2 separate regions of the Homo sapiens genome follow, and region 2 is linked to region 1. Evidence: fine-mapped expression QTL. A gene starts in region 1. The other region holds a variant in brackets. All regions are shown on one strand. Distances are between the middles of the regions. Region 1 holds the start of TCF25 (TCF25 ribosome quality control complex subunit). Region 2 overlaps TCF25 (TCF25 ribosome quality control complex subunit).

Evidence for each region.
Region 2: its variant is fine-mapped to the expression of TCF25 in whole blood (TOPMed, PIP 0.96).

What each region holds. Positions count from the first base shown.
Region 1 is chr16:89,865,391-89,880,638 of GRCh38, reverse strand. It overlaps TCF25 (TCF25 ribosome quality control complex subunit), which reads right to left and starts at 7,047. Exons shown (of 18, transcript NM_014972.3): 1 at 6,780-7,047. The coding sequence starts at 6,971. SPIRE2 (spire type actin nucleation factor 2) reads right to left here. Exons shown (of 15, transcript NM_032451.2): 13 at 12,423-12,450; 14 at 10,957-11,072; 15 at 9,320-10,589. The coding sequence ends at 10,367. LOC112268179 (a long non-coding RNA gene) reads left to right here and starts at 7,151. Exons shown (of 2, transcript XR_002957933.2): 1 at 7,151-7,671; 2 at 8,718-10,262. RefSeq lists enhancers at 465-1,134, 7,403-7,562, 7,333-8,289 and silencers at 6,263-6,732, 7,203-7,322.
Region 2 is chr16:89,887,690-89,902,937 of GRCh38, reverse strand. TCF25 (TCF25 ribosome quality control complex subunit) reads right to left here. Exons shown (of 18, transcript NM_014972.3): 5 at 15,221-15,248; 6 at 10,663-10,745; 7 at 9,080-9,210; 8 at 7,801-7,900; 9 at 6,855-6,948; 10 at 4,289-4,381; 11 at 4,066-4,171; 12 at 2,144-2,303. Among named protein-coding and RNA genes, the nearest start is that of TCF25, 22 kb to the right of the region's middle. The variant C/T (reference allele first, on the strand shown) is at 8,521.

The DNA of each region.
Region 1 (15,248 bases):
GGGACTACAGGCACACGCCACAACACCCAATTTACTTTTTTTTTTTTCTTTTTTTGAGATGGAGTCTTGCTCTGTTGCCCAGGCTGGAGAGCAATCGCATGATCTTGGCTCACTGCAACCTCCGCCTCCCGGATTCAAGTGATTCTCCTGCCTCAGCCTCCCGAGTAACTGGGACTACAGGCATGTGCCGCCATGCCAGGCTAATTTTTGTATTTTTAGTACAGATGGGGTTTCATCATGTTGGCCAGGCTGGTCTCGAACTCCTGACCTCAGGTGATCTGCCCGCCTCAGACTCCCAAAGTGCTGGGATTACAGGCGTGAGCCACCGCGCCCGGCCAACACCCAATTTACTTTTATTAACTCATGCTGACTTCCTAAGAAAAAAAATTCTTATTTTGAGGTGTTTGACAAATCGAATTCATAAAAAGCTCTATGCCAAGCTGAACTTCAATGGAAAGGAGCCTGTGTACACGGACAGCACGCGTGATGGGCTCAGGAGCCTGCCTGTGTACACAGACAGCACACATGATAGGCCCGGGAGCCTGTCTGTGTACATGGACAACACGTGTGACAGGCTCTGAAGCCCATCTGTGTACACGGACAGCACGTGTGATGGGCTCAGGAGCCTGCCTGTGTACATGGACAGCACGCGTGATAGTCCTGGGATCCTGACTGTTTACAAAGACAGCACACATGATAGGCCCAGGAGCCTGTCTGTGTACACGGACAACACGTGTGACAGGCTCCGAAGCCCATCTGTGCACACGGACAACACGTGTGACAGGCCCCGAAGCCCATCTGTGCACACGGACAACACGTGTGACAGGCCCCGAAGCCCATCTGTGCACACGGACAACACGTGTGACAGGCCCCGAAGCCCATCTGTGCACACGGACAACACGTGTGACAGGCCCCGAAGCCCATCTGTGCACACGGACAACACGTGTGACAGGCCCCGAAGCCCATCTGTGCACACGGACAACACGTGTGACAGGCCCCGAAGCCCATCTGTGCACACGGACAACACGTGTGACAGGCCCCGAAGCCCATCTGTGCACACGGACAACACGTGTGACAGGCCCCGAAGCCCATCTGTGCACACGGACAACACGTGTGACAGGCCCCGAAGCCCATCTGTGCACACGGACAACACGTGTGACAGGCCCCGAAGCCCATCTGTGTACACGGACAACACGTGTGACAGGCCCCGAAGCCCATCTGTGTACACGGACAACACGTGTGACAGGCTCCGAAGCCCATCTGTGTACACGGACAGCACGTGTGACAGGCCCAGGAGCCCGTCTGTGTACACGAACAGCACGTGTGACAGGCTCTGAAGCCCGTCTGTGTACACGGACAACACGTGTGACAGGCCCCGAAGCCCATCTGTGCACACGGACAACACGTGTGACAGGCCCCGAAGCCCATCTGTGTACACGGACAGCACGGGTGATAGGCCCAGGAGCCCGTCTGTGTACACGAACAGCACGTATGACAGGCCCCGAAGCCCATCTGTGTACACGGACAACACGTGTGACAGGCTCTGAAGCCCATCTGTGTACACAGACAGCACGGGTGACAGGCCTAGTTTTGCTTCTTCAGTGAAGTTTTGGTGATGACACATGATTTGCTGCAATCTCTACTGCCATGCATCAGCTCTAAAATGCTGTCAATCACCGTCAGACAAACCTTATTACTGGCTGGGCGCGGTGGCTCACGCCTGTAATCCCAGCACTTTGGGAGGCAGAGGTGGGCAGATGGCGAGGTCAGGAGATCAAGACCATCCTCGCTAACACGGTGAAACCCCGTCTCTACTAAAAATACAAAAAAACTTGCCGGGCGTGGTGGTGGGCGCCTGTAGTCCCAGCTACTCAGGAGGCTGAGGCTGGACAATGGAGTGAATCCAGGAGGCAGAGCTTGCAGTGAGCTGAGATGGTGCCACTGCACTCCAGCCTGGGCGACAGCGCAAGACTCCGTCTCAAAAAACAAAACAAAACACCTTATTACCTACCCAAAAGCTGTGATTTTCATTAGTTTTAGGGTCTCAAATGGGGAACATTTCACAAGGTTCTTGTCCACGACTGATCTTCTTTAGGATAAAGCTCGATCAGCATTTCAGTTAATAACCAGGAAGGAGTTTTATCTTTTTTTAGGGGGAGAGGAAAATGTCCATTTTTCCTAAAAAAAAAAAAAAAAAAAAAAAATGGTGATTTTTAATAGAGACGGAGTTTCACCATGTCGGCCAGGCTGGTCTCGAACTCCTGACCTCAGGTGGTCCACCCGCCTTGGCCTCCCACAGTGCTGGGATTACCGGCATGAGCCACCGCACCCAGCCTGAGGTTGTCTTTTTTTTTTTTTTGAGACAGGGTCTCACTTTGTCACCCAGGCTGGAGTACGGTGGCGTCATCTCACCTCACTGCAGCCTCGACCTCCTGGGTTCAAGCCATCCTCCCGTCTCAGCCTCCCGAGTAGCTGTGACCACAGGTGAGTGCCACTATACTTGGACAGTTTTTTTGTATTGTTTGTAGAGATGGGGTTTTGCCACATTGCCCAGGCTGGTCTCACACACCTGAGCTCAAGTGATGGATCTGCCTTGACCTCCCAAAGTGATGGGATTACAGGTGTCAGCCACCAACCCTAGCCTGGAATGTTTTATACTTTAAAAAATTCAGTATCTTTAATAGATAAAAGGGCTCAGATTTTTTTATTTCTTCACATGTCAATTTAGATAAGTTTTATCTTTAAAGGAACTTGCCCATTTGTCTAATCTGGAAAATTTATTAGCAAGAAGTTCCTTATCGCCCGTTACTATCTGCACCATCTGTACCTGTGAACACTCCTCTCCCATCCCTGAAAATGGTAACGTACCTGGACCTTCCCTTTTTCCCTCCATCAGTCAATCTAGAGTTTTTGCCAACTCGTCTTTTGAGAGAACCAAGTTTCGGTCTCACCGATTCTCTCCATCGTGTCCATACTCTATTCTGTGCATTCCCCTCTTTGATTAGTTTCTTCCTTCGACACATTTTGAGTTTAATTTGCTCTTTTTCTAGTTTAAGGTAGAAGTTTCAGGTAAATTTCTAGATTTTTAAACACTTTTCTAATTTAAAATTTACGATGATAAAGTTCTAATCATCGTTTCAGTTGCATCCCACAAATTTTGATAGGTTGCTATTTTCATTACCAATCAGTTCAGAAAAGATTCTAGGCCAGGCATGGTAGCTCACATCTATAATCCCAGCACACTGGCTTTCAAAAAAAATTGAAAAAATTAGCCAGGTGTGGTGACACCCACTTATAGTTCCACCTACTTGGGAGGCTGAGGTGGGAGGATGGTTTGAGCCCAGGAGTTCAAGATTACAGTGAGTTATAATTGTGACATTGAACTCCAGCCTGGGCAATAGAGCGAGACTCTGTCTCCAAAAAACCAAAACACACACACACCCACACACAGCAAAAACTGACAGGGTTGAAAGTAGAAATAGACAAATCCATAATTATTATTACGATTTATTTATTTATTTATTTATTTATTTTTTTGAGACAGAGTCTCGCTGTATTGCCCGGGCTGGAGCCTGGTGGCACAATCTCAGTTCATTGCAACCTCCACCTCCTGGGTTCAAGCAATTCTCCTGCCTCAGCCTCCCAAGTAGCTGGGATTACAGGCACCCACCACCATGCCTGGCCAATTTTTTTTTTTTTTTTTTTTTTTTTAGATGGAGTCTCGCTCTGTTGCCCAGGCTGGAGTGCAGTGGCACGATCTCAGCTCACTGCAAGCTCCGCCTCCTGGGTTCACGCCATTCTCCTGCCTCAGCCTCCTGAGTAGCTGGGACTATAGGCTCCCGCCGCCACACCCGGCTAATTTTTTTGTACTTCTTTAGTAGAGGCGGGGTTTCACCGTGTTAGCCAGGATGGTCTGGATCTCCTGACCTCATGATCCGCCCACGTCGGCCTCCCAAAGTGCTGGGAATACAGGCATGTGCCACCACGCCTGGCCCAATTTTTGTATTCTTAGTAGAGATGGGGTTTCACCATGTTGGCCAGGCTGCTCTCGAACTCCTGACCTCAGGTGATCTGCCCACCTCCCAAAGTACTGGGAGCTGCAATTCCAGCACTTTGGGAGGCCAAGGCGGAAGGATCTCTTGAGCCCAGGAGTTTAAGACCAACCTAGGCAACATAAAGAGATCTTGTCTCTAAATAAATAAAATTTTTTAAAAAGAGAAACACCATGTCTCTCACCAATGCATTCACATTCATAACCATTTAGTCGTAACTGGCTGTTTACTGTCTCCCATACTTCTGTTTATTAAGAGCTATTTAACAGAATGCCAATAAACATTTTGATTATATTATTTCCAAATATGAGTTTTAAGAGCAAAAAAGTATGGAATGCTTAAATTAAGACTGATGTGTGCCACTGGATAAAATTCTCTGAAATTCCTAAGAACACAGCACGATAAGCAGTCATTCATCCATGGAGGCTGTTAGTGTTACTGACACTCAAACTCACTCCAGAAAGTCCACAAGGGTTTGTGTGGTTTCTGACCTTACAGACTCTTACTCTGTCAACTCATGAACCACACTTTTTCCAAATTCCCACCAACACAAATATAAATACCAAAAAGATTAAATATTTAAATGGGAAAAAAAAAGCATTAAAAGAACAAGCTGAGCATGGTAGGGTATGCTGTAGTCCCAGCTGCTCAGGAGGCTGAGGCAGGAGGATAACCTGAACCCAGGAGTTCAAGACCAGCAACCAGCCTGGGCAACACCGTGAGACCCTGTCTGTAACCAAAAAAAAAAAAAAAAAAAAAAAAAAAAGCCAGGCGCAGTGGCTCACGCCTGTAATCCCAGCACTTTGGGAGGCCGAGGCAGGCGGATCACGAGGTCAGGAGATCGAGACCATCCTGGCTAACATGGTGAAACCCCATCTCTACTAAAAATACAAAAAATTAGCCAGGCGTGGTGGCGGGCGCCTGTGTTCCCAGCTACTTGGGAGGCTGAGGCAGGAGAATGGCGTGAACCCAGGAGGCGGAGCTTGCAGTGAGCCGAGATCATGCCACTGCACTCCAGCCTGGGCGACAGAGCGAGACTCCATCTCAAAAAAAAAAAAAAAAAAAAAAAAAAACTCACGTCAGGGAATATCTATGTGAAGACACTCTAGAGAGATGGATGTGTAACAATGAGAAAAGTGGCTCCAGTATCTTTCAGCACGCAGAAATTAAAGAAGTTAAAGAACAAACACAAACCGAGAAAATACGTTAGAGACAATCGATAGCAAGCTTCCACGAGCAAAAAGACTGTCCAAACCCCCTATAAAAAGGCAAAGATATAAACAGGTTGTCACAAAGAGAAATATAAATGGTCAACGAATACATAGCTAGGTGCTGCATTTCACTACCAAAGAAGTGTAAAATAAAATAATGTGATATCATTTTTCACAAATTACATTGACAAAAATTTAAAAAGACTTACGGGGCCAAGCACAGTGGCTCATGCCTCTAATGCCAACACTCTGAGAGGCCAAGGTGAGAGGACTATTTGAGCCCAGGAGTTCAAGGTTGCAGTGAGCTAGGATTGTGCCAATGCACTCCAGCCTGGGCAACAGAGCAAGATTCCATCTCAAAACAAAAAGCTTTCAGTAACTGCTGTGAATCTAGCAAATTACTGAACCTTGACGGGGGTCTTGGGGACCACTAAAGGTGGACTTGATGCGAGAAGGGCAGTCAACCAAGCATGGTGACTCACGCCTGTAGTCCCAGCACTTTGTGAGGCTGAGGTGGACAGATTGTTTGAGCGCAGAAGTTCTAGACCAGCCTGGGCAACAAGGCGAAAACTCTTCTCTACAAAAAAGAAAAAAAAAAAAAATTAGCCGGGCGTGGTGACATCCACCTGTAGTCCTAGATACTCAGGAGGCTGAGGTGGGAGGATCGCAGAGCCCGCAGAGGCAGAGTTACAGACGGAGGCCAGGGCTTAGGAGAAAACGTCACAGGACCGCATGAGCAAACCATACAGTCAAACTGTTACTTCCCTGTGCCAGAAACGAGCTGCCGGAGATGCAGCAAAGAGTAAGACTAATCCGCTGGGTTAGGCTGATGGGGATGCGCGAAGAGCAAGGCCCTGGGTTAGGCAGAGTTGTTGTGAGGATTAAAGCAGAATGCTCGCAGAGGCCTGGCAAGTCCTCAACCCTGGAACCGAGAGAAGGCCCCTCTAGACTCGAGAAAGGGAAGCCCCACCCGACTCCTGCCCCTACGCCGTGGCCCCACCCCCACGGTGGCCCCAGGCCTCATTTAACCCCGCCCACGCCATCGCCTCGCCACCCCCCCGTCTTTAGCCACGCCCTTTAGCGTCACGGCCCCACGACAGCCACGTGGCCGCAGGCCCATTTAATCCCGCCCACGTCGTGGCCCGGCCCCGCGGACGTTGGCCACGCCCTTGGCATCAAGGCCCCGCACCCTCCACAACCCGGACCCCGCTTAACCCCGCCCATTCGGTCGCCCCGCCCCGACAGCACGGCCCCGCCCCATCCCTTAGCCCCGCCCACCTCACCGGGGTTAGAACCCAGTCTAACTCCGCGGCCCGCCGTCTTCACCCCACGCCACCGCCCACCCGCGTCGCCCTGGCCCCGACGCACGGCCCCGCCCTCCCCACTGCGGCTGGGACCCACGTCACCCTTCCCACCCCTGGCATCACAACCCCGCTCCCCGACCCGGCTGGACGCTCGCCCCGCCCCACAACGTCAAGGGCCACCCCACCCCCACCCGGGCCGCCGCGCTCCTCACCAGCTCGAAGCGGTTGTTGACTCGGACGCCCTCCTTCCCTGCGCCCCCGGGACGCCGGACACCAAGCTCCCGCTTGGGCCCTTCTTCTTCCGCGTCATCGTCATCACGGAGATCGAAATGCAAGGCGCCGGGCCCGAGGGGCTCCTGGCCGCGCTGTTCCCCCCTCAGCCTCCGGAGGGCCCGGCGCGACATAGGACCGAACGACCACGACGTCTGGAGAGAGGGAGAAGGAAGCGCAGAAAACTCGGCTGTCGGCGCGCCTGCGCACTCTTCGCGCGGGGTCGGGGGCGGGGGAGCTGGCTGCGCGCCTGCGCACTCTTGGCGCGAGGGGTGGGGGCAGGACCTGGCTGCGGCGCCTGCGCGTCGCGGCTCTCCGGAACTTTCCCGCTTCAGCGGCGGCGTCTGGGCGGGCTCCGGGGGGTCCGGGCCAGGTCTCTGGAGAGCTGGGTGTCTGCGCGCCGTGCGCACCGGGCATGGAGAGGTGCCCCGCGGGGATGACGGGCTTCGATTCGGGGTAACGGGCGCGCAGCCGGCGACAGTCGGCCCTGCCCGGCCTTGCCCATCCATGTGGCCCGGAACCCGCAGCCGCGTTCTGCCCGCCGGGGCCTGTCCCCGCACCGTGCCTGCAGCATTTCAGCTGCGTCCCGGACGTTGCTAGTTGGTCCTTTTCGTGTCAGGGTGTCATTCGAGTGATCTAGCCGTCGATGCCCGCCTCTGCCCTGGAGCCGCCGCCCCTCGAGCAGCATTGAGTGACGCGGCCCTTACTGCCCGCCCGAGGCCTCTTTAGGGACAGTGGTTCTGACAGTTCTAGGACAGGCCGCCCGCGTTTGTCACGATCTAAGGGCCGGGCGCGGTGCTCACGCTTGTAATCCCAGCACTTTGGGAGGCCAAGGTGGGCGAATCACCTGAGGTCGGGAATTCGAGACCAGGTTGGGCAACACGGTGAAACTCCCTCTACTAAAAATACAAAAATTAGCTGGGCGTGGCTGCGCACGCCTGTAATCCCAGCTACTCGGGAGGCTGAGGCTGCAGTGAGCCGAGATCGCGCCACTGCACTCCAGCCTGGGCGACAGAGCCAGACCCTGTCTCAAAAAAATGAAAAAAATAAAGTAGATGAGGCTGAGACAGTGCTGGGTTCAGTGGGCGGAGGGCACAGCTTCCTGTGCCTGGGGTTGGGGACATGGGGACAGGAGGGCATAGAGAAGACAGGTGCCAGCAGCCTCCTGCCCGACTTACTGCGGCTTCATGAGCACAAGCAGCAGCCCTGGTGAGCCGGCCTGGCCCCTCCCAGGATGGGTTAGGGTTTTATTTTATTTTGTGAGATGAGGTCTTGCTCTGTTGCCCAGGCTGGAGTGCAGTGGCGCAATCTCGGCTCACTGCAACCTCCATCTCCCAGGCTCAAGCACTTCTCCTGTCTCAGCCTCCCGAGTAGCTGGGACTACAGGCATGTGCCACCATGCCCGGCTAATTTTTGTACTCAGTAGAGATGGGGTTTCACCATGTTGGCCAGGCTGGTCTCGAACTCCTGACCTCAAGTGATCTGCCCACCTCACCCTCCAAAAGTGCTGGGATTACAGGTGTGAGCCACTGCACCTGCCGTGGTTTAGGGTTTTAACGTGGGCTTTCATTTCCAAGTGTTCCTGTATGAATTACAACCCAGTCTCCCCATGATAGGGAGTGTGAGTCCCCGTAGAACCAGAACAACCGTCGTCCTTACCAAGCACTACACATTAGCTTATTGCTGGCTGTGTGACCGGAGGAGTTCCCTGACCCTCTCTGTGCCTGTTTTCTTATTTTTAAACAGGAATAAAAATACAGGCCAGAGAGTCCGTGAAATGCTTACACGCATGCTAGAAGCTGGCTGTTTTTACTGGGGGCTCTAATTTTGTGTGTTTGGATTTCCTGGACCCCAGCTGACAGGAGTATTTTCTCCCGCAGGCCCATCAGTTACAAGTCCTGTCCCTTCTGACCTCCAGGCCCCACGGCTAGCATTACAGCCTGGAGTCAAAGTTCTGGGTGAGCTGTGTATCTTTGGCCAAATTCTTTGACCTCGTTGAGCCTCAGTTCCCTCATCTGTAAGGTAAGATGACGGCAGAACGTCACGGAGGAGCAGGGCAGGGCCCCGTTAACAGGCTGAGCCGGGCGCAGGTGAGCAGACAGCACTCGGCACAGGGCCTGTCTAGAGCCTGCAGTCACACCTCCTGCCCCTGTGGATCCTCTCCCTGGAGAACGAGAATACGGATCTGGGAAATGAGACCAAAGTACCCCCCAGGCCAGCAGGTGTGGCCAGAGGAGCTGATGGGCAGTAGTCTGTGCCGTCCGCATGCAGCCCTGACCATGGTGGCCAGGACCACGAAGCTGGTAGAGGCAGCCAGGGCTGCGTGGACAGAGCAGGCCTGGAGCCCTTGCCTGGTGGGCACCTGACTCTAAGCCAGGAGGCCTTTCCTCGTCCTGGAAGGCAGGTGGCCCCTCAAGCCCAGCTTCAACCTTGGGAGAACATGCCATGCTGGGTGAATCCTCAGCGCACATCCCAGACAGAAGACTGTGAGACCTCCTTTATTAGGCCAAGAGTGGCCATGTGCACAGATTTACAGAGCTGCTCCTCCCTGTGCCAGGACCGCCCAGCATCTTCAGGAGCCTCTGGGCCAGGGGCGAGTGAGGACAGCACCAGAATGTGGTAGGGCCAGGAGAGGCAGGACACATGTGGTTTGGACCCCAGGGAAAGGGAAAGGGCAAGGGCAGGGAGCAGCTTGGCACGGACCTTTTTTTTTTTCGAGACAGAGTCTCGCTCTGTCGCCCAGGCTGGAGTGCAGTGGTGCAATCTCGGCTCACTGCAACCTACACCTCCCGGGTTCAAGCGATTCTCCTGCCTCAGCCTCCCCTGTAGCTGGGATTACAGGTTCCTGCCACTATACCTGGCTAATTTTTGCATTTTCAGTAGAGACAACATTTCATCATGTTGGCCAGGCTGGTCTCAAACTCCTGACCTCAGGTGATCCTCCCTCCTCGGCCTCCCAAAGTGCTGGAATTACAGGCCTGAACCACCACGCCTGGCCAGACCTTTCAAACAGGTGGGGGTGCCTCCCAGGAGGACCCTGCCTACTCAGAGACTTCCCAGATGCCTCTGCTGCCTGAGTCCCCACAAAGGGAGAGCAGAGGCAAGCAGGGCACTCTGGTCCAGCTGGGAGCCAAGATACCCTGTCCCCACCTAGACGTCCACTGGGGAAGGGAAACTGCCGTTCGCATTCCTGGGGACGGAGAAGAGCATGGGAACATGGGATGCAGTCTGTGCCAGGATCTAGAACCTTCTGCTTTCTCTCTTCAGTGAGAAAACCCACCCTGTTCCCTCCCCTTCCTCCCTGGCAAGGAATCCTGAGAAGAAACAGCCTCCCCCAGGGAGGGTTTTGAAGTGCGCCTGAACCCAAATGAGCTCTGGGGCCAGGAAACAGTGTATATAAATATATAGACTGTGTGTATATATTATAAATGTATCTATATATGTATATATGTACATGCACAGCTCAGAGCGTCCTAGCCTGATACAGGGCCTGCCTGGTGCCTCCTGGAGGCCTGGCCACCTGGGGCTGTCACTTGAAGTCAAGAGTCCTGGTGTTAGGGATGTAGAGGGATTGGGTCTGGCGACTGCGTCGTGGCGTAGTGTTGAGGACGTCCACGCTCTTGCGGCTGGAACGCACCACGTCTGCCACAAAGCTGGTGCACTCACTGCAGACATCCTTCAGGACACAGCCGTGGGAGTAGATGTGGGGGAACGCCTCCTCCACGCTCTGCCACTGTGGCCCTTGCAGAGACCTGGGAAGTGGGAGAGGGCACTCAGGGAGAGGAGCCAGCCAGGGTGCCACACCCCCCTCCCTGCTTGTGCATGCCACAGCCCCCTCCTGGCTGCCTTTCACCCTAGGCCTCCCCTTGGCCCTCAGGCAACAAACACAGCTAGCAGTGTTCATCTCAGCAGACTGTTCCCTGACCACCCAAGTCCAGTTTCCATCTCATACTGCTCAGCCTCCCAGAGCCCTACACAACGATCCGTCTCTGCCTTGCATTTCCATTTCCTTGGGGTGTCCTAGCAAACAGACAAAGCCAGCCCCCTCCACCCCAGCTCCCAAGTTCCTCTTCACGCCCGACCACCACAGTGACATCAGCAGCAAGGCGAAGAACGCACTGAAAGATGTCTCTTCTCTGGATTGGCGCGGTTTTGGCAGCTGATACCCTCTGAGGACTCTCAAAGCCCAGTGTGTAGACAGGGATGTGTCCAAATTTCTTAGAAGGCATCTTCATCTGCAGCACAGAGGGAGGAGGTATGAACCAGGCACCACCAGAGACATTCAGGTACACTCAGTGCTAGGGGACCTCCCTCCCCAGTCTGGGACCTGCGTGGCAGCCAGGGCTTCCTGGAGAATATTCTCTGTCCCTGTGCTCTCCGATGTCTCCTCTGTGCCTTTTGGCTGAAGACTGGCACGGGGTTCCTGCTTGCTGCACATCTGGACAGGGGCTTCTTAGAGCGCAAGAACCGTCCCTTTTTATACCATGCGGGACCTGCCACGTTTCCTGCTCATCTGGACAGGGGCTCCTTAGAGGGCAAGAACTTTCCCTTTTTATACTATACGGGACCTGCCACCTTACCCTGCACATAATCAACATTTAACATGGATGAGGTGGAAGTTTTTCCATTGCCAAGTGGCAGGATGTAGAGTAAGATTTAAAAATAGTGGTAGTAAGAGTACTCCTTAAGCAGAGTTTTGCTTCTGAACTGAGGCCTGAGGGGTAACATATATATATATATATATATATTTTTTTTTTTTTTTTTTTTTTTAAGACACAGATCTTGCTCTATTGCCCAGGCTGGAGTACAGAGGCACAGCCATACTCACTGCAGCCTTGAATTTGCTGGGCTCAAGAGATCCTCCCACCTCAGCCTCCCAAAGTGCAGGAACTGCAGGCATGAGCCACCGCGCCTGGCTGGTGACATACTTTTATTTGTATTTTGTCTTTTTGAGACGGAGTCTCTGTCACCCAGGCTGTAGTGCAGTGGCACAATCATAGCTCACTGTGGCCTCCACCTCCCGGGTTCAAGTAATTCTCATGCCTCAGCCTCCTGAGTAGCTAGGATTACAGGTGCGTGCCACCATGCCCAGCTAATTTTTTTGTATTTTTAGTAGAGATGGGGTTTCACCATGTTGGCCAGGCTGGTCTCAAGTGGTCCGCCAGCCTCACTGGCCTCCCAAAATGCTGGGATTACAGGTGTGAGCCACCGTGCCCAGCTGACATACTTTTAAATGTTAGGATCCCTTTACCTCTGTGCACCTGCACATAAGCACACACCTCAACTGCAATAAGAAGCCCCTCCTAAAACACCCAAAAAGTTATAGAATGTAAGAAGGTAGGACTTTTAGAGGGGAAGTGAAGGGTTTTTTGGCACGAGGCTACTAACGTGCAATGTTTAAAAACAAAAACCTGTAAGGGTCTTTAAAAACTGCACACTATCTTGGAAAGTATAGGAATGGATTCTGCCTGAAAGGAAATGGATGAGGTGCCTGGTGAGGCAGCATCATCCAACACATCCAATCAAAGCCAGTGGAGCCCCTCATCTGCCTTGCTCAGACCCCAGAGATCCCACATGGTCCTCACCTTTATGCTACAGGAAGTGCAGACGGCTCTGGAAGGGAACAGAGGAAATGCAGCATCAGCAGGGAGGAAGCCCACAAACAGCTGAGAAACAGTCGCATCCCGGCCTCCACGCATCCGAGGTCAAACCATCCTTGCCTTCTGCCTGATGCTTGGTTACTTCAGTACTTTATTTTACTCCAAAATCTTGCTTTTCTTTATACTTAGGTATCCACCCAAAATATATGTGCTCCTTGGCATTCTCTCAGGAAGGATGGCTCCAGGAGTTTTCTCCTGCCAAGTTTTCTATTGCCAAGTGGTAGGATATAGAGTAAGGTTTAAACATAGTGGTGGTGGGCCAGATGTGGTAGCTTACGCCTGTAATCCCAGCACTTTGGGAGGCCAAGGCAAGTGGATCACCTGAGGTCAGGGGTTTGAGACAAGCCTGACCAACAAGGTGAAACCTCGTTTCTACTAAAAATACAAAAATGAGTTGGGCGTGGCAGCAGGCACCTGTAATCACAGCTACTTGGGGGGCTGAGATAGGAGAATGGCATGAACCTGGGAAGTGGAGGTTGCAGTGAGCTGAGATCACGCCACTGCACTCCAGCCTGGGGGACTGAGCGAAACTCTGTCTCAAAAAAAAAAAAAAATGGTGGTAAAAGTCCCTCTTAAGCAGATTTTTGTTTCTGAACCAAGGCATGATGGGTCTTTCTGAACCAAGCCATGATGGGTCACATACTTTTGGAAAGTTTAAAAACAAAAACCTACAAGGGTCTTTAAAAACTGCACACTGTCGGCCAGGCGCGATGCCTCACGCCTGTAATCCCAGCACTTTGGGAGGCCAAGGCAGGTGGATCACGAGGTCAGGTGTTCAACATCGGCCTGGCCAAGATGGTGAAACCCCGTCTCTACTAAAAATACAAAAAATTAGCCGGGCATGGTGGCGGGCACCTGTAATCCCAGCTACTCGGGAGGCTGAGGCAGAGAATTGCTTGAACCCAGGAGGCGGAAGTTGCAGTGAGCCGAGATCATGGCACTGCACCGCAGCCTGGGTGACAGAGAGAGACTCTGTCTCAAAAAAAACAAAAAGCAAACAACAACAACAACAAAAAACAAAAAAAAAACTTGCACACTGTCTTGGAAAGACATCTAAGATTCCTTCTAAGAAGACGTGTAGACATTGGTGTGTACCTGACACTACTCACCATAAAAGCACCATGGAAGCTAGAGGGGCCTCAACTGAGATGCTCAGTTTTAAACAGTGATTCAATTTTGTTTTAATTCCCATATCTGATTTCAAAAATAAATACCTTCTTATAAAAAATTCAAGGCTGGGCGCGGTGGCTCAAGCCTGTAATCCCAGCACTTTGGGAGACCGAGATGGGCAGATCACGAGGTCAGGAGATCGAGACCATCCTGGCTAACATGGTGAAACCCCGTCTCTACTAGAAATGCAAACAAATTAGCCAGGCCTGGTGGCGGGCACCTGTAGTTCCAGCTACTCGGGAGGCTGAGGCAGGAGAATGGCGTGAACCCGGGAGGTGGAGCTTGCAGTGAGCCGAGATTGTGCCACTGCACTCCAGCCTGGGTGACAGAGTGAGATTCCATCTCAAAAAAGAAAAAAGAAAAAAAAAAAAATTCAAGGCTGGGCGTGGTGGCTCACCGCTGTAATCCCAGCACTTTGGGAGGCCAAGGTGGGCGATCACCTGAGGTCGGGAGTTGGAGATCAACCTGACCAACATGGAGAAACCCCATCTCTACTAAAAATACGAAATTAGCAAGTGTGGTGGCACATGCCTGTAATGCCAGCTACTCAGGAGGCTGAGGCAGGAGAATCACTTGAACCTGGGAGGCAGAGGTTGCAGTGAGCTGAGATCGCGGCATTGCACTTCCGACTGGGCAACAAGAGTGAAACTCTATCTCAAAAAAATAAAAAAAAAAAATTCAAACATGAGAGAATTAAAATGTAGACACCACATGCTCAGAAGTGATCCCTGCTAGTAATGGTTTCCATCCTCCAGGCTTTTCCAAGCATATATCAACAGAAATATACATAATTTTACAGATAAAATTAGGTGATTTTTTTTTCCCAGACAGGTCTTGCTCTGTCACCCAGGCTGGAGTGCAGTGACACCGTCATAGCTCACTGCAGCCTTGACCTCCTTGGCTCAAGTGATCCTCCCACCTCAGCCTCCCAAAGTGCTGGGATTATAGGCATGAGCTACCATATCCACCATATCCAGCCTTACCTTTTTTTTTTTTTTTTTTTTTTGAGACAGTCTCCCTCTGTTGCCCAGTCTGGAGTGCAGTGGCGCGATCTCGGCTCACTGCACCCTCCACCTCACAGGTTCAAGCAGTTCTCCTGCCTCAGCCTCCCGAGTAGCTGGGACTACAGGCACCCGCCACCACGCCCAGCTAATTTTTTGTATTTTTAGTAGAGACAGGGTTTCATCGTGTTAGCCAGGATGGTCTCGATCTCCCGACCTCGTGATCTGCCAGCGTTGGCCTCCCAAAGTGCTGGGATCAAGGTGTGAGCCACCGCGCCCGGCCCAGCCTTACTTTTTTATTCAGTCTGGGAAATTCTAACTTTTACTTGGGTCGTGTGGATGACTTACAGTTAATGTGATGCGAGATACAGTTGTGTTTAAGGCTGTCATTTGCTATTTGTTTTGTTTTTGACTCATTTGTTTGTTCTCCTTCTTTTCCTACCTTTTTTTGGATTAATTACTGTTTATGGTCCCATCTTATCTCCTTTGTTGGCTTATTAGCTGTAACTGTTTTATTTTAGTGGTTGCTTTAGGACTTATGGTATACATCTTTAACTTATCACAGTCTACCTTTAAGTAA
Region 2 (15,248 bases), 22 kb before region 1:
CCCCACGCCGTGGGCCTCCTCGGGGCCCAGACAGAGCCCTGGAAACCCACAGAACCGAGAAAGGGATGCTGCTTCCAGGACATCCTAATAGGCGATGAGTGGTCACGTAATGTGTGTATACTAGCTGCACGCAAATAACCCTCACCCCTCACCGCCCCTCGGAGGAGGCCCGTCTTAAGGAGGGATTTCACCCTCACCCCTCACAGCCCCTCGGAGGAGGCCCGTCTTTTTTTTTTTTTCTTTTTTTTTGAGACGGAGTCTCGCTATGTTGCCCAGGCTGGAGTGCAGTGGCGCGATCTCGGCTCACTGCAAGCTCTGCCTCCTGGGTTCATGCCATTCTCCTGCCTCAGCCTCCCAAGTAGCTGGGACTACAGGTGCCGGCCAACACGCCCGGCTAATTTTTTGTATTTTTAGTAGAGACGTGGTTTCACCGTGTTAGTCAGGATGGTCTCGATCTCCTGACCTCGTGATCCGCCCACCTCGGCCTCCCAAAGTGCTAGGATTACAGGCGTGAGCCACCGCGCCCGGCCGGAGGCCCGTCTTAAGGAGGGATTTCACCCTCACCCCTCACAGCCCCTCGGAGGAGGCCCATCTTAAGGAGGGATTTCACCCTCACCCCTCACAGCCCCTCGGAGGAGGCCCGTCTTAAGGAGGGATTTCACCCTCACCCCTCACAGCCCCTCGGAGGAGGCCCGTCTTTTTTTTTTTTTTCTTTTTTTTTGAGACGGAGTCTCACTATGTTGCCCAGGCTGGAGTGCAGTGGCGCGATCTCGGCTCACTGCAAGCTCTGCCTCCTGGGTTCATGCCATTCTCCTGCCTCAGCCTCCCAAGTAGCTGGGACTACAGGTGCCCGCCAACACGCCCGGCTAATTTTTTGTATTTTTAGTAGAGACGTGGTTTCACCGTGTTAGTCAGGATGGTCTCGATCTCCTGACCTCGTGATCCGCCCACCTCGGCCTCCCAAAGTGCTAGGATTACAGGCGTGAGCCACCGCGCCCGGCCGGAGGCCCGTCTTAAGGAGGGATTTCACCCTCACCCCTCACAGCCCCTCGGAGGAGGCCCATCTTAAGGAGGGATTTCACCCTCACCCCTCACAGCCCCTCGGAGGAGGCCCGTCTTAAGGAGGGATTTCACCCTCACCCCTCACAGCCCCTCGGAGGAGGCCCGTCTTTTTTTTTTTTTTCTTTTTTTTTGAGACGGAGTCTCACTATGTTGCCCAGGCTGGAGTGCAGTGGCGCGATCTCGGCTCACTGCAAGCTCTGCCTCCTGGGTTCATGCCATTCTCCTGCCTCAGCCTCCCAAGTAGCTGGGACTACAGGTGCCCGCCAACACGCCCGGCTAATTTTTTGTATTTTTAGTAGAGACGTGGTTTCACCGTGTTAGTCAGGATGGTCTCGATCTCCTGACCTCGTGATCCGCCCACCTCGGCCTCCCAAAGTGCTAGGATTACAGGCGTGAGCCACCGCGCCCGGCCGGAGGCCCGTCTTAAGGAGGGATTTCACCCTCACCCCTCACAGCCCCTCAGAGGAGGCTCGTCTTAAGGAGGGATTTCACCCTCACCCCTCACAGCTCCTCGGAGGAGGCCCATCTTAAAGAGGGATTTCACACATGCTGTCAGGCAGGGTCAGCCCCGAGGTCTGACCAGGTGGCAGCCTCACTGTGCCCGCCACATGTGCGTGGATCGAAGCTACCCAGATGCAGTCAGGGGTCACGGCTGTGCAGGCTGAGTCCATCTGGGCGGCACAGGCCTCCATTCTGCATCCCAGCATGGTGCAGAGCACAACCCTCTCGGCCACACCTCGGCGCTGCCGAGACCTTCCCCTGCTTTGCTCTCCTCCCCAGCACTGGTACAATCCAATGCCCCGCACCTCCCAGCCAGTTCTGTCTCTGCACTCTAGAACACAGGCCCCACGGGGGTCGGGATGCCTGCCACCTCCTCGTGCCTGGCTTGGCACGCAGCGGGTTCCGAGATGAGCCGACCCTCTTTCAGGTTTGGTAGGGCAGGTTTGCAGGCCCTACCAGAGAATGCATGTTTCTACAAGTGTGGGGAAGGACTGGGACCTGGCCTCCACCACCAGGAAGAGCAGCCCCCACGGCTGACAGGACACACCCCTACCCCAGGCGAGACACAGCGCTCACTCACCTCCAGGGAACATGGTGAGCGCCTGCTGTATCAGGAGAGAGGCCTTCTGCCTGGCAGAGCTCTGCTCACACTCAGGGAGGTCTGTCTGCTGGCTCAGCAGGAAATACGCCAGTGGAACAGAGAAGGCAAAATTAGGGAGCTGGGACAGGTTCCGATGAGCCTACGAGGGACGAAGAAACAGAGCGTGGAGCCTTAAGTCATAAAGACAAAATATGTGAGTTTGCAGACGCTCTGACATCACCAGTGAGCCCTACCCCGAGCAGGTATATTCTGCAGGCAACGCAAGGGCCTCTTCCTAACTCAGCATAAAGATAACTTAAAACGTCCACCTGGGGGGCTTTCCGCATGCAGAAGATACAGAGGACGTGGGAGGGCCTGAGAAGTAGACTGAGCCGGAGCGAGGACACCGTGGGGAGTGAGGGTCCCACCTGCCGCCCAGGCTCCTCTCTGAAGCTGAGCAGTTGGTGCTCTCAATGTGGAAAATTTACAGACGAGAGCAGCCCACCCCCGCGCGAGTCTGTGAGAGCAGCCCACTGCCGCGCGAGTTTCCGAGAGCAGCCCGCCACGCGAGTTTCCGAGCAGTCTACCACCGTGCCAGTTTCTCTTGCCTTTCTCAGCCTATGTCACATATTGTAGACATGTGACTCACTGCATTTTTTTCTATCAAAATGGGATCACAGACTCACAGTTTTGTGACCTTAAACACCATCATCAACATTCTTCTGCAGCCCCATTTTGGGGGACTCCCTGAGGTTTCCCTGCACCTACATTTTTGTGAGCTCCAGGAATTTCTATAAACCACATTCCTGGGGGTGAGACTTCCTGGCCAACTATGCCAAATGCTTAAAAATTCAAAATAATTTACCCACTTTCATTATCCATGAACATGTGCTATGAAAAAAATTCAACACAGAAGCAGAGAAAGTCAAGAGCTGTCGCCTTCTCCCCAGCCCCAGGCCCTGCTGGAGGTTAGCGTTACAAAGCCCGTGTCCTTCCAGATAAGTGCTGCCCCATAGGAACATAATGGGAGCCCAGGTGTCAATTTAAATTTTCTTTTTTTTTTTTTGAGACGGAGTTTCACTCTGGTTGCCCAGACTGGAGTGCAATGGCGCGATCTCGGCTCACCGCAACCTCCACCTCCCAGGTTCAAGCGATTCTCCTGCCTCAGCCTCCCGAGTAGCTGGGATTACAGGCATGCACCACCACGCCCAGCTAATTTTGTATTTTTAGTAGAGACAGGGTTTCTCCATGTTGAGGCTGGTATCAAACTCCTGACCTCAGGTGATCCGCCCGCCTCGGCCTCCCAAAGTGCTGGGATTACAGGCGTGAGCCACCATGCCCGGCCCAATTTAAATTTTCTGGGAGCTGCATTAAAGACAAAACAGGTGAGATTAATACGTTATATCTAACCCAATACACCGAAATTATCATTCCAACACGTGTCTGTGTTAGAGTTACTGGGGACAGAGCTCAAGTCTCTCCTGCTGTACTCACACTCTTCCCATGGAACAGGACAGACGTGCTGGGGGTCCCTGTGTCAGCCCCACGCAACCAACCCTCCTTCTACCTCCCGGCTGCATCTTCCTGAACTGCCCATGAGGAGCTCGGGAGTTGTCGGTTTTTCATCATTACCAGCATCACAGTCCTTGCAGGCACACGTGTGCATGTGTACACACGTTTGAGCATGTGTACACACGTATGAGGATTCTGACATAAGGCTGCTGTACTGTCCCTAGGAAAACCACATTCCACTCCGTAGAGGCGGCAAGGGAGACAAACAAGGCAGGAGGACGTGGTTCTGCCCTCAGACGATTATCGTTTCATCCCCAAACGTCCCCTGAGCGCACAGATACTGAACCAAGAAAACAGAAGGAGAAGCAGGTGTCCGTCCCTCCACGGGGCCTCACCAGGCTCGCACCCACCTCCCACTCCTGGAAGAGGCGGATCAGGTACTCGTAGTTCCGGGCCCGCAAGGCCAGGTGGTCGATGAGCAGCAGCATGCAGAGGGGGTCCTCATCCGGCTCGAGACTTCCGGAGGCAGCACAGAGAGCAGAGCAAAGGGGAACAGGGGCATCGTCAGGCTGAGAGTGGGCCTGCAGCCAGGACAGGGAGCGTGGACGGGCTTGGCCCTGAGCAGACACTCACCTCAGGATGAGCTTGCAGTACTCCAGCGCCGTGCGCGGGCAGCCTCGCTTCTCCAGGAAGCTCATCTGCTTGTAGAGGGCCAGGTAGAAGCTCCTAGATCCAAAATAGTTCCACATGAATTACAACGACACAAAGGAGAATGCTCTCTGCTCAGCGCCCCGGCCAGCACCCACTCCACCCCGCCCTCTGCTCAGCGTCCTGGCCAGTACCACCCATTCCACCCCACACACTGCTCAGCGCCCCAGTCAACACCCGCTCCACCCCACACACTGCTCAGCGCCCCAGTCAACACCCGCTCCACCCCACACACTGCTCAGCGCCCCAGTCAGCACCCGCTCCACCCCACACACTGCTTAGCGCCCCGGTCAGCACCCGCTCCACCCCCATTCTGCTCTCTGGGTTCTGCTGGCATTTTCTACGTGCCCAGCACACAGAGATCCATGTCTGGAGAGGAGGTGTGCGCTCTCCTTGTCCTTTACAGAGTTATACACGAATTTGCATACTGAAAATCAAACTTCTTTGAAATCTTTTTTTTTTTTTTGAGACGGAGTCTCGCTCTGTCACCCAGGCTGGAGTGCAGTGGCGCTATCTCGGCTCGGCTCATTGCAAGCTCCGCCTCCTGGGTTCATGCCATTCTCCTGCCTCAGCCTCTCCAAGTAGCTGAGACTACAGGCACCCGCCACCACACCCAGCTGATTTTTTGTATTTTTAGTAGAGACGGGGTTTCACCGTGGTCTCGATCTCCTGATCTTGTGATCCACCTGCCTCGGTCTCCCAAAGTGCTGAGATTACAAGCGTGAGCCACCACGCCCCGCTGAAATCTTTATCTTGTTTTTTTGTTTATTATTTATCATTTACAGGAAGAGAGTTAAAATCTCTTGTTACAATTACGATCTTAATTTATCCTCCAATCTCAACAGTGGCTAACAGCACTCAGGCTGGATACATGGAGCCCTGTGACTTTCGGATGCTGGTGGGCTGCTACTTCCATCAACAGCCCACTGTCTCTTTCGCGTCGGGAAATATTAATATTTTATAATCTACTTCAAAGAACTAAGAATTTCATTGGAAGAGACAAAACTAACATAAAGAAAACCAGTGGAGGAAATTCAGACCCAGCACACAGTGCAGACAATCTGTGCAGAACGGGTCAGCGGACCTTGGCTTGCCAGGAGGGCTGAGAGGGTAGGAGCGGATCCCACACTGCAGACAACCCAGGGCGGCCAGAGAAACAGGGCACTGCACACAGGAGAGGCAGGACAGCGGACAGAAGCTGGTCTGCTCCACAAAGGGCCCACAGGACAGGCTGCGGGAAGGCCTGGCGGAAGCCAGTCTAGGTCTGACCAGCGAGGCCTGATGCCAGAGGGATGGCTTTAGGGGCAGAAGTATCTGAAAGAAGAGAGACCTCCACATGCGGTCGCTCAGCACAGGGGAGCGAGGGTCAGGCTGACTCTGAGCTCCTCACTGATTTAAGGTCAAACCTGCAAAGCCTTCCAAAGCTTCTAAACTTGCCAGGGATGGGTTTTCTCAGCCAAACATAGAAGGAAATGCAATTGCAGAGCCCACTGTGGAGATCTGGTTTCTCAGGCTCACTTCTTCTTCTTCTTCTTTTTTTTTTTTTGAGAGACAAGGTCTCACTCTGCTGCCCAGGCTGGAGTGCACTGGTACCATCTCAGCTCACTGCAGCCTCGACCTCCTGGGCTCACTTGAGTGATACTCTCGCCTCAACCTCCCAAGTAGCTGGGACCACAGGCACGCGCCACCAGGCGCAGCTAGTTTTTAAAATGTTCTGTAGTGGCCGGGCGCGGTGGCTCACGCCTGTAATCCCAGCATTTTGGAAGGCCGAGGCGGGTGGATCGCAAGGTCAGGAGATGGAGACCATCCTGGCCAACACAGTGAAACCTCGTCTCTACTAGAAAATACAAAAAATTAGCCAGGCGTTGTGGCACGTGCCTGTAGGCCCAGCTACTCGGGAGCCTGAGGCAGGAGAATGGCTTGAACCCGGGAGGTGGAGCTTGCAGTGAGCCGAGATCGCGCCCCTGCACTCCGGCCTGGGTGACAGAGTGAGACTCCGTCTCAAAAAAAAAAAAAAAAAAAAAATGCTGTTTTGAGACTGCATGTTGCCACGGTGCTCAGACTGGTCTTGACACCTGGGCTCAAGCAACCCTCCCACCTCGGCCTCCCAAAGTGCTGGGATTACAGGCGTGAACCACTGTGCCCAGCCAGGCTCACTTCTAACACAAACATTTATTTTTATTTTTATTTTTTTAAGAGATGGGGGTCTCACTATGGTGCCCAGGCTGGACTTGAACTCCTGGGCTCAGCAGACCTCCCACTCTGACCTCCACAGTAGCATCAGGCATGTCCACAGACAAAGGTAAACCTGGGCTGAGACAATCCCATCCCTCTATCCTTAAGCCCAGAGAGAGGAAGGTGGGTCACTCTGGACCTGTGGGCCCTGGTCCACCCTGGAGGGCAGCCATGAGGTGCCCACTGCACCTCCCCCAGCCTCACTCGCAGGAGAAGGGAAGGGGAGCTGCGTCACCTCCAGGGCAGCTGCACTCACCTGTTCTCGGGTCTGCGGTAATCCAGCCGGCAGGCCCCACTGGTGAGACTGAACAGGGGGTGGAACGCACATTCCATGCTGTACAGCGCTCTCTCTGTGGGCACAGGGACGCCAGGGGAGGGTGTCATGGCCACACACAGCAACCACGGCCCCTCCTCTGATAATGGACAACAAGGAAAGGTCTGGACGGAAGGTCACGAAACTAGAGTCCTGGACACTGAGAGGGCAGACATGCCCCTGGGCACCCTGGATGCCACGCTGCATTTATTTCAACCACAGAACTTGTGAGCTTGACATGGTAACACTTTCAACACCATGAGGCACAACTGCTGCCACGTCCTGACAGAACCAGGCGTCCATGTGTGCAGCACAGATGTGTCCACCTAAGACTGCGTGTGCATGCTGACGTAAGCACTATTATTTACAACAGCCCACACGGCCGTCAACTAATGATGGATACACAACATGTGGTCCGTCCACACAGTGGAGTATTACTAAGCCATAAAAACGAACGACGTTCTGATCGACGCTACAGTGAGGATGAACCTTGAAAACTTCATTGTAAATAAAAGCCAGAGGGCGGGGCGTGGTGGCTCATGCCTGTAATCCCAGCACTTTGGGAGGCTGAGGTGGGTGGATCACAAGGTCAGGAGATCGAGACCATCCTGGCCAACACGGTGAAACCCCATCTCTACTAAAAATACAAAAAATTAGCCAGGTCTGGTGGCGGGCGCCTGTAGTCCCAGCTACTCGGGAGGCTGTGGCATATATTAAACACCAACAAACAAAAACTTTAAATGGGTAAGTTTTGTGCTACGTAGGTTGTATCTCAATAAAGCTGTCATGGATATCCTGGCAACCCCTGTCATCTTACACCATCGCATCTGTCTTGATAGCTTGAGGTGCTCCCACAGCTGAGGGGAATGGGGTGGGGGCTCTGCCTTACCTACGAGGTCTCGAGCCATCTCCTGATCCTCTTGAAAGCGGCAGGCATCGCTGAGCTGCAGGAGTGAGTCAACGTGGTAAGGGCTCGTCTGGAGCAGAACCTACCAGAAGGGAGGACAGCCCTGGAGGAAAGGCACTCAGCAAGGCCCCAGCTCCCAGGCATGCCTTTTTTTCAGACATTTAAAACCAGCGGAGGCTGGGCGCAGTGGCTCACGCCTGTAATCCCACCACTTTGGGAGGCTGAGGCAGGAGGATCACTTGATATCAGGAGTTCAAGACCAGCCTGGCCAACGTGGCAAAACCTGGTCTCTAATAAAAATACAAAAATTAGCCGGGTGTGGTGGCGTGTGCCTGTAATTCCAGTTACTCGGAAGGCTGAGGCAGGCGAATCGCTTGAACCCGGGCCGAGACTGCGCCAATGCACTCTAGCTTAGGCGACAGAGTGAGATTCCGACTCCAAAAACAAAAACAAAAACGGGGGAATTACCGGGTCGACACTCACAACGTCCCCCCAACTCAAAATAGGCTAGTTATTATTGCTAAGCTGAACCAATTATATGACTTAAAGCAAGAACTCAGAACCTGACATGCCCAGGCCAGGGGCCACCTAACTCCCCACTAAGCCCCAAGAAAGAGGAATGGAAAGCAGCAGCCTGCTTTTCCCACAGGGAGATGACGGGGAGCTCTGCGGAGGCTGTCCGGGGTTGCAAGGGGAGCTGTC[C/T]GGCGGCTGCGTGAGGGCCGCCCGGGGGCTGTCTGGGGCTGCGCGGGGGCCGTCCGGGGCTGCAAGGGGAGCTGTCCAGGGGCTGCATGAGGGCTGTCCAGGGTTGCACCGGGGCTGTACGGGGACTGTCCAGGTCCGGGGCTGTCTGGGGCTGCGCGGGGGCCGTCCGGGGCCGTGTGGGGGCCGTCCGGGGGCTGCACGGGGGCCGGGAATCTGAGCTGCTCGCCTGCACTGAGCCGCAGGAGGCAAGGGCAGCAGTGAGAAGCCCCAGAGTCCTGGGCCTGCATCACACGGCACTACTGCGACGGTCCCCAGGAACGGCTGAGAGAGCAGCGCTCCAGCCTCTCCTCTGAGTATGGATGGAGCTCGCTTGGCCTAGAGCCTCCGAACACATCTCCTTCTGGTCACAGGGCCAGACCGCCCTGCAGAGACTGGCACCCTTCCTGTTGGGAAGGGCAGGAGGCAGCATGCCTCCCCCAGCCACCAGGGAAGCAGGCGGCCCAGGGCAGTGGTGGCTACATGGCCCCTGCTCCTGTCAGGGGCTGCAGGGACCACGCACCACGATGTTGTTCGGCTCCATAGACTCCACGGCCACCAGGAACTTGTGCTGAGCCTGCTGGTACTCCTCACTGTGCTCAAACGCAAAGAAGGAGAGGCCTTTTTTTGATTCCAGCAGCCGCATGGACAGACCTGGGAGGGGAGAGTGCTCAGGGAGGGTGTGCCGGGAGCAGGGACGTGGGCAGCTCCGAGCACAGCCCTCACCTTCGTGGTGTTCTGGATGAGGCCTCTGCGATATCGACAAACTTGACCTGAGTGTGTACTCATGGGTGTCACCAGCTCCGGACACCTTCCCAAAACACCCGCCGTCTGGTCTACACCAGGAGACGGCATCCCGTCTGCTTTAGTTTCCTATCAAGACGTGTTTGCCTCCAGAACTCGGATACAGCTCTAGCCCCACTGGCCTGGAGGGAATGTCAGGGACAAGGACACACACAGTCCACAGATCGCCAGATCTGACCACGCCGAGCACTGTCCCCAGACCACGTCTGATTGAGGAGAATGTCCGGGGTGGCTGTGGAAGGACAGGGTTGGAGTGCGGTGGCACAGGTGGCCACAGCGCCAGGCCTCTGAAGCCACAGAGCTTTGTAACGTGTGACCACCCTCTCACTTGGCTCCTCTTGTCTGACTGGGTGTATGGGACCCAGTTTCTTCTGATAAACCTGGAAAGCTCAGCCTCCCAGGACCTCCATGGACTAGGTCCCCTGTAGTGATACCTTCTTGATGGCCCTGCCCAAGGCCCCAGTCCTGCAGGAATACATGGCCATGGAACCCCTGTCTGCAGTGAGCAGGGGTTCCTGCCAGGAAGGGAAGGGGCCGTGAGCAGCGGGGTTCACCTTCTGACAGCACAGGCCTCGCTCCTAGATGTGTCCTTACAGAATGTATGCAGGCAATCTCCGGCACCCCCACAGACACAGGCGCAGGAGAAGCGGCCGTGGGAGCCATGGCAGCGCTGACAGCAGCAGCCATGCCGATCACCAAGGGCACCACACAGCTCCCTTCCCACAAGCTGTCCTTGCCCTGGCCCCTGAGGGCCCCCACAGTTCAGCCACTGCAGAGTGGAGGCCAGTGTGGAAGGCCTCCTGACACTTCCCCACACCACACAACCAAGCACCCAACACTCCATGCCTGTCTTCACTGTTGCAATTCATCTTAAAATCACTTATTAGTTTGCAATAATATACAAAATATTGCAGTTTAAAATGAACTCGATTGCTTCCATAAGGGAAAGGTCGATGGCAGAATGGTAGGAAGAACCTGCGTTAAAAGACAGTCACACAAAGACTGTGCCTGGGAGGCTCCGTGTTGAGGTACTGGGCCAGGCCTCCAGCACTCAGGCCCTCAGTGTGGCAACAAACAGTCACACACTGCACACTCCTGGAGCGCTCCTGGAGCAAAGAGTCTCGGCTCAAGAGGCACTGACGCCCCTGGTGCCCAGCGCAGGCCAGTGCACAGAACACACCCCCCCGCCGCCCTCCACCCCCAGCAGCCTCTGCAGACCCTCACCTGGTTTGCTGTACCGGGGCCAGTGCACAGACAACGCCCCCCAACCCTCCATCCCCAGCAGCATCTGCAGACCCTCACCTGGTTTGCTGTAGCGGGGCCAGGTGCTTTTAGGGGTGGTCAGCCATGTGCACTTGGGGTACACACGTTGTCTCTGCCGTGGCCTGGGGAGAACGGGACACAGGTACAGCTTTACTTCCTGTGGCGTGTGGGGACCAAGGCTTGGCTGCCTGATCCCTGCACGGGCTGTGGAAGCAAAACTGAGGGGCAGAGAAGGCATGTGGGGCAGGGTGGGGACGCATTAAGGACAGGATGCAAACAAGCGTCAGCAACTGCTGTGGGACGGGTGCAGCAGGGAGGGCCCCATAGAGAGAAAGAAACAATTCTGGCTGGGCACGGGGGCTCACACCTGTAATCCCAGCACTTTGAGAGGCCAAGATGGGAGAATTTCTTGAACCCAGGAGTTCGAGACTGGCCTGGGCAAGACAGCAAAACCCCATTTCTACAAAGGGTTTTAAAAATTAGCCTGGCGTGATGGCCTGCACCTGTGATCCCAGCACTCCAGCCTGGACGACAGAGCAAGGCCCTGTCTCAAGAGGAAAATAAAAAAAGAAAACGAAAAGAAAGAGAACAACGTACTAATATCCACATGCCCATCACTCAACTTAAGAAACCAACCATCTCTGAGGTAACAGCAGCTCCATGCCTTTTCCATGCTGCCCCACCTGCCCAGCTCAGATACCAGCTGACCAGTGCTTAGAGTGGGCCTGACCCCTGTGGCAGAGACCCCCAAATAACAGAGGTCAGGGCACTCTGCCTGAGCACACAGGCACCAGACAGGTGGGGCGTGGCAGCCGCGGCAGCACAGACAGCAGCAGCCATGCCCACGGTCACCATCAGCACGGTGCAGCTCCCTTCCCACGGGGCCATCCCTGCCCTGGCCCCGGGCTCCCCACAGTTCAGCCACCGCAGAGTGGAGGCCAGTGTGGTGGGCCCTCCTGACATGAAGGTGGCCCCAGCCTGCTTCTCCTGCCTGTAGCACACGCCCAGGCCTAGGAGAGTCAGCCCTTCAGCACTCTCCTGGGCCAGATGTACAGAATCCCAGGGATGGCCTGACCTGCGGTGAGCTATCCCACAAAACAAGTAAGGAAGCCTCCAGAACAGACCCAACGAGGCAGCCTGGGCAGATGCCAGGAGGGGGCAGGGGACAGGAGCCTGGAGGAGCTCTGAAGGCTGGCAGGCGCCCTGAGCAATGGGAGGAGTGTGCTGAAGTGCGGGGGCGATGAGCTGACCGGGCTGTCGTAGTAGGAAGTCAAGGACCCAAGAGAAAGCAGTGCCTGTTATTCTGAGCTTCTGAGAGAACCACCAGAAGGAGAAATGGAAACAGGCCAGGTCTTTGTCTTGGAGGAGCAGGACAAGGAATGAATAAAAAGGAAACTGTGGCTTCTCCATGTAAGTCTTTTGGTAGGACTTAAATTTTTAAAGAAATAAATAAACAAAAAAGTTTAATAATACTATAAAAATAATAAAGGCAATTATTGTCAACTAATTACTACGAGTAATCAGTATTAACAGTTATAATACTAATTACTATTAATAATTATAATTTGCAGAAATAAAACCATGCAAAAATATAAAGAAATGACCAAGACAGACCAAGCAGATGCAAACAAAGGGTGGGACGAGGTGGAACCCTCAGCTCAGAGAAATGCAGATGACAAAGTGACATTTTAAAGTCTATTTTTAATTAATATTCCCGAAGAAACCCATCAACACCAAAAATGTAAAGTAAAATATAAAGCAAAACCTGTTAGAAATCCAGGGAAGGCGTGAACAACAGCATATGAAAACATCCTTGATCTACCCACAATCAAAACCCCAACACTTCTGCCCACACACGACGGCAGGTTTCCAAACCACTACCGTCGACTACGAGTAAGAAGGTGAAGGACCTGGGCAGACACTCAGTGTGAGCCACGTAACTCTACTGAAGGCACTGGCAGCATGCAGGATATATACTCATTCTTGGGCAGTTTCACAGAAATGCCTGCAGACACCGGGGACTGTAGCCAACATCTGGACACATGCTACCATTGGGGTGAGGAAATGACCTGGGTATACCATGGTGCAGAAACAACACTTAGGCTGGGTGTGGTGGCTCACGCCTGTAATCCCAGCACTTTGGGAGGCCGGGCGCAGTGGCTCAGGGCTGTAATCCCAGCACTTTGGGAGGCCGAGACTGGCGGATCACTTGAGGTCAGGAGATCGAGACCAGCCTGGCCAACATGGTGAAACCCCGTCTCTACCAAAAATACAAAAATTTGCCGAGCATGGTGGCACTCGCCTGTAATCCCAGCTACTTGGGAAGCTGAGGCAGGAGAATCGTTTGAACCCAGGAGGCGGAGGTTGCAGTGAGCTGAGATCGCACCACTGAGCTCCAGAGCCTAGGTGACAGAGCGAGACTCCATTTCAAAAAAAGAAAACAATGCTTAGAACTCAGACGTGCAGACCAGGCACGGTGGCTCACACCTGTAATCCCAGCACTTCGGGAGGCTGAGGCGGGTGGATCACCTGAGGTTGGGAGTTCGAGACGAGCCTGACCAACATGGAGAAACCCCATCTCTACTAAAAACACAAAATTAGCTGGACATGGTGGCACATGCCTGTAATCCCAGCTACTCAGGAGGCTGAGGCAGGAGAATCACTTGAACCCGGGAGGCGGAGGTTGTGGTGAGCCAAGATTGAGCCATTGCACTCCAGCCTGGGCAACAAGAGCAAAATTCTGTCTCGAAAAAAAAAAAAAAGAACTCAGACGTGCAAACCCAGGGCATGTTATAGACCAGCAATACTCTCCATGGTCCAATAAAACAGGATGTGTCTGGCTGGGCGTGGTGGCTCATGCCTGTAATCCTAGCACTTTAGGAGGTAGAGGGAGGAGAATCGCTTGAAGCCAGGAGTTTGACATCACCCTGGGCAACAAAGTAAGACCTTGTTTCTATAAAAAATAAAATAAAATAAATTAGCGGTGGCATGTGCCGGTAGTCCCAGCTATTTGGGAGACTGAGATGGGAGGATCACTTGAGGCCACGAGTTCAAAACCAGACTGGACAACCCAGCAAGACCCTGTCTCTAAAAAATAAAAAAATAAAAATAAATAAATAAAAAAAAGACAAAGCCTTCTGGACACTTCGATGGAGAGTCCAGAGGTGGAATATACCTCCTACATAAAGTCCCAGAAGCAGACACCCCCCCTGCTCTTCCTCCTCTAAGGAGCTGAAAGACCCTGTGCTCCCCATCGCAGCCAGCCATCCTCATCTGGGGCTGCCCAACTGCTAAGAACTACTGAATGGACACAGATGAAATTTATCTGGGCCGGGCGCCATGGCTCACGCCTGTAATCCCAGCACTTTGGGAGGCCAAGGCAAGTGGATCACCTGAGGTCAGGAGTTCGAGACCAGCCTGGCCGACATGGTGAAGCCCCGTCTCTACTAAAAAAAAAAAAAAAAAAAAAAAAAATTAGCTGGGCGTGGTGGCGTGCACCTGCAATCCCAGCTACTCGGGAGGCTGAGGCAGAATTGCCTGAACCCAGGAGGCGGAGGTTGCAGTGAGCCAGGATCACACCACTGCATTCCAGCCTGGGCGACAGAGCAAGAATCTGCCTCAAAAAAAAAAAAAAAGAAAGAAAGAGAGAAAGAAACTTATCTCAGAACCTGACCTTCACATTAGTTTTGCTCTGAGAAGCAAAACTAGAATCTTTTTTTTTTTTTTGAGATGGAGTTTCGCTCTCGTTGCCCAGGCTGGAGTGCAACGTCACGATCTCAGCTCACCGCAACCTCTGCCTCCGGTTTCAAGCGATTCTCCTGCCTCAGCCTCCTGAGTAGCTGGGATTACAGGCATGCACGACCATGCCTGGCTAATTTTTTGTATTTTTAGTAGAGACGGGGTTTCTCCATGTTGGTCAGGCTGATCTCGAACTCGTGAACTCAGGTGATCCGCCCGCCTTGGCCTCCCAAAGTGCTGGGATTACAGGCGTGAGCCACCACGACAAAACTAGAATCTTAAAATTTAACAGCTTTTGAAAACTTTTTTTTGAGACACGGTCTCGCTCTGTCGGCCAGGCTGGAGTGCAGTGGTGTGATCTCAGCTCATTGCAACCTCTGCCTCCTGGGTTCAAGCGAATGTCCCGCCTCAGCTTCCTGAGTAGCTGGGATTACAGATGCCTGCCCACCACGCCCAGCTAATTTTTGTATTTTCAGTAGAGACGGGGTTTCACTATGTTGCCCAGCTGGTCTCAAACTCCTGACTTCAGGTGATCTGTCCGCCTCAGCCTCCCAAAGTGCTGGGATTACAGGCGTGAGCACTGCACTCGGCATGGCTTTTGAAACCTCATGCTGGACAAGGCAGTGTGAGGGATGGAGACCAGCTACTCTGAGCATCTCTACAACCCACGGTCACAGACAAGGTTATACACAGACAATCTGTGGACTCCCATTCAGACCCCAATTCTAAGGGTTACGTGTGCACTCTGGCTTTAAATACTCTCCCTCAAGGGTAAACTAGCTTCAGGAACACCACCCCCGGCCAAGAGTCTAAGAAGGAATGAAGCAGCTGTGAGAATGCAGCTCACTGTGGACCTTACCTTTGCTCCCCCAGGATTGCCCGGGCAC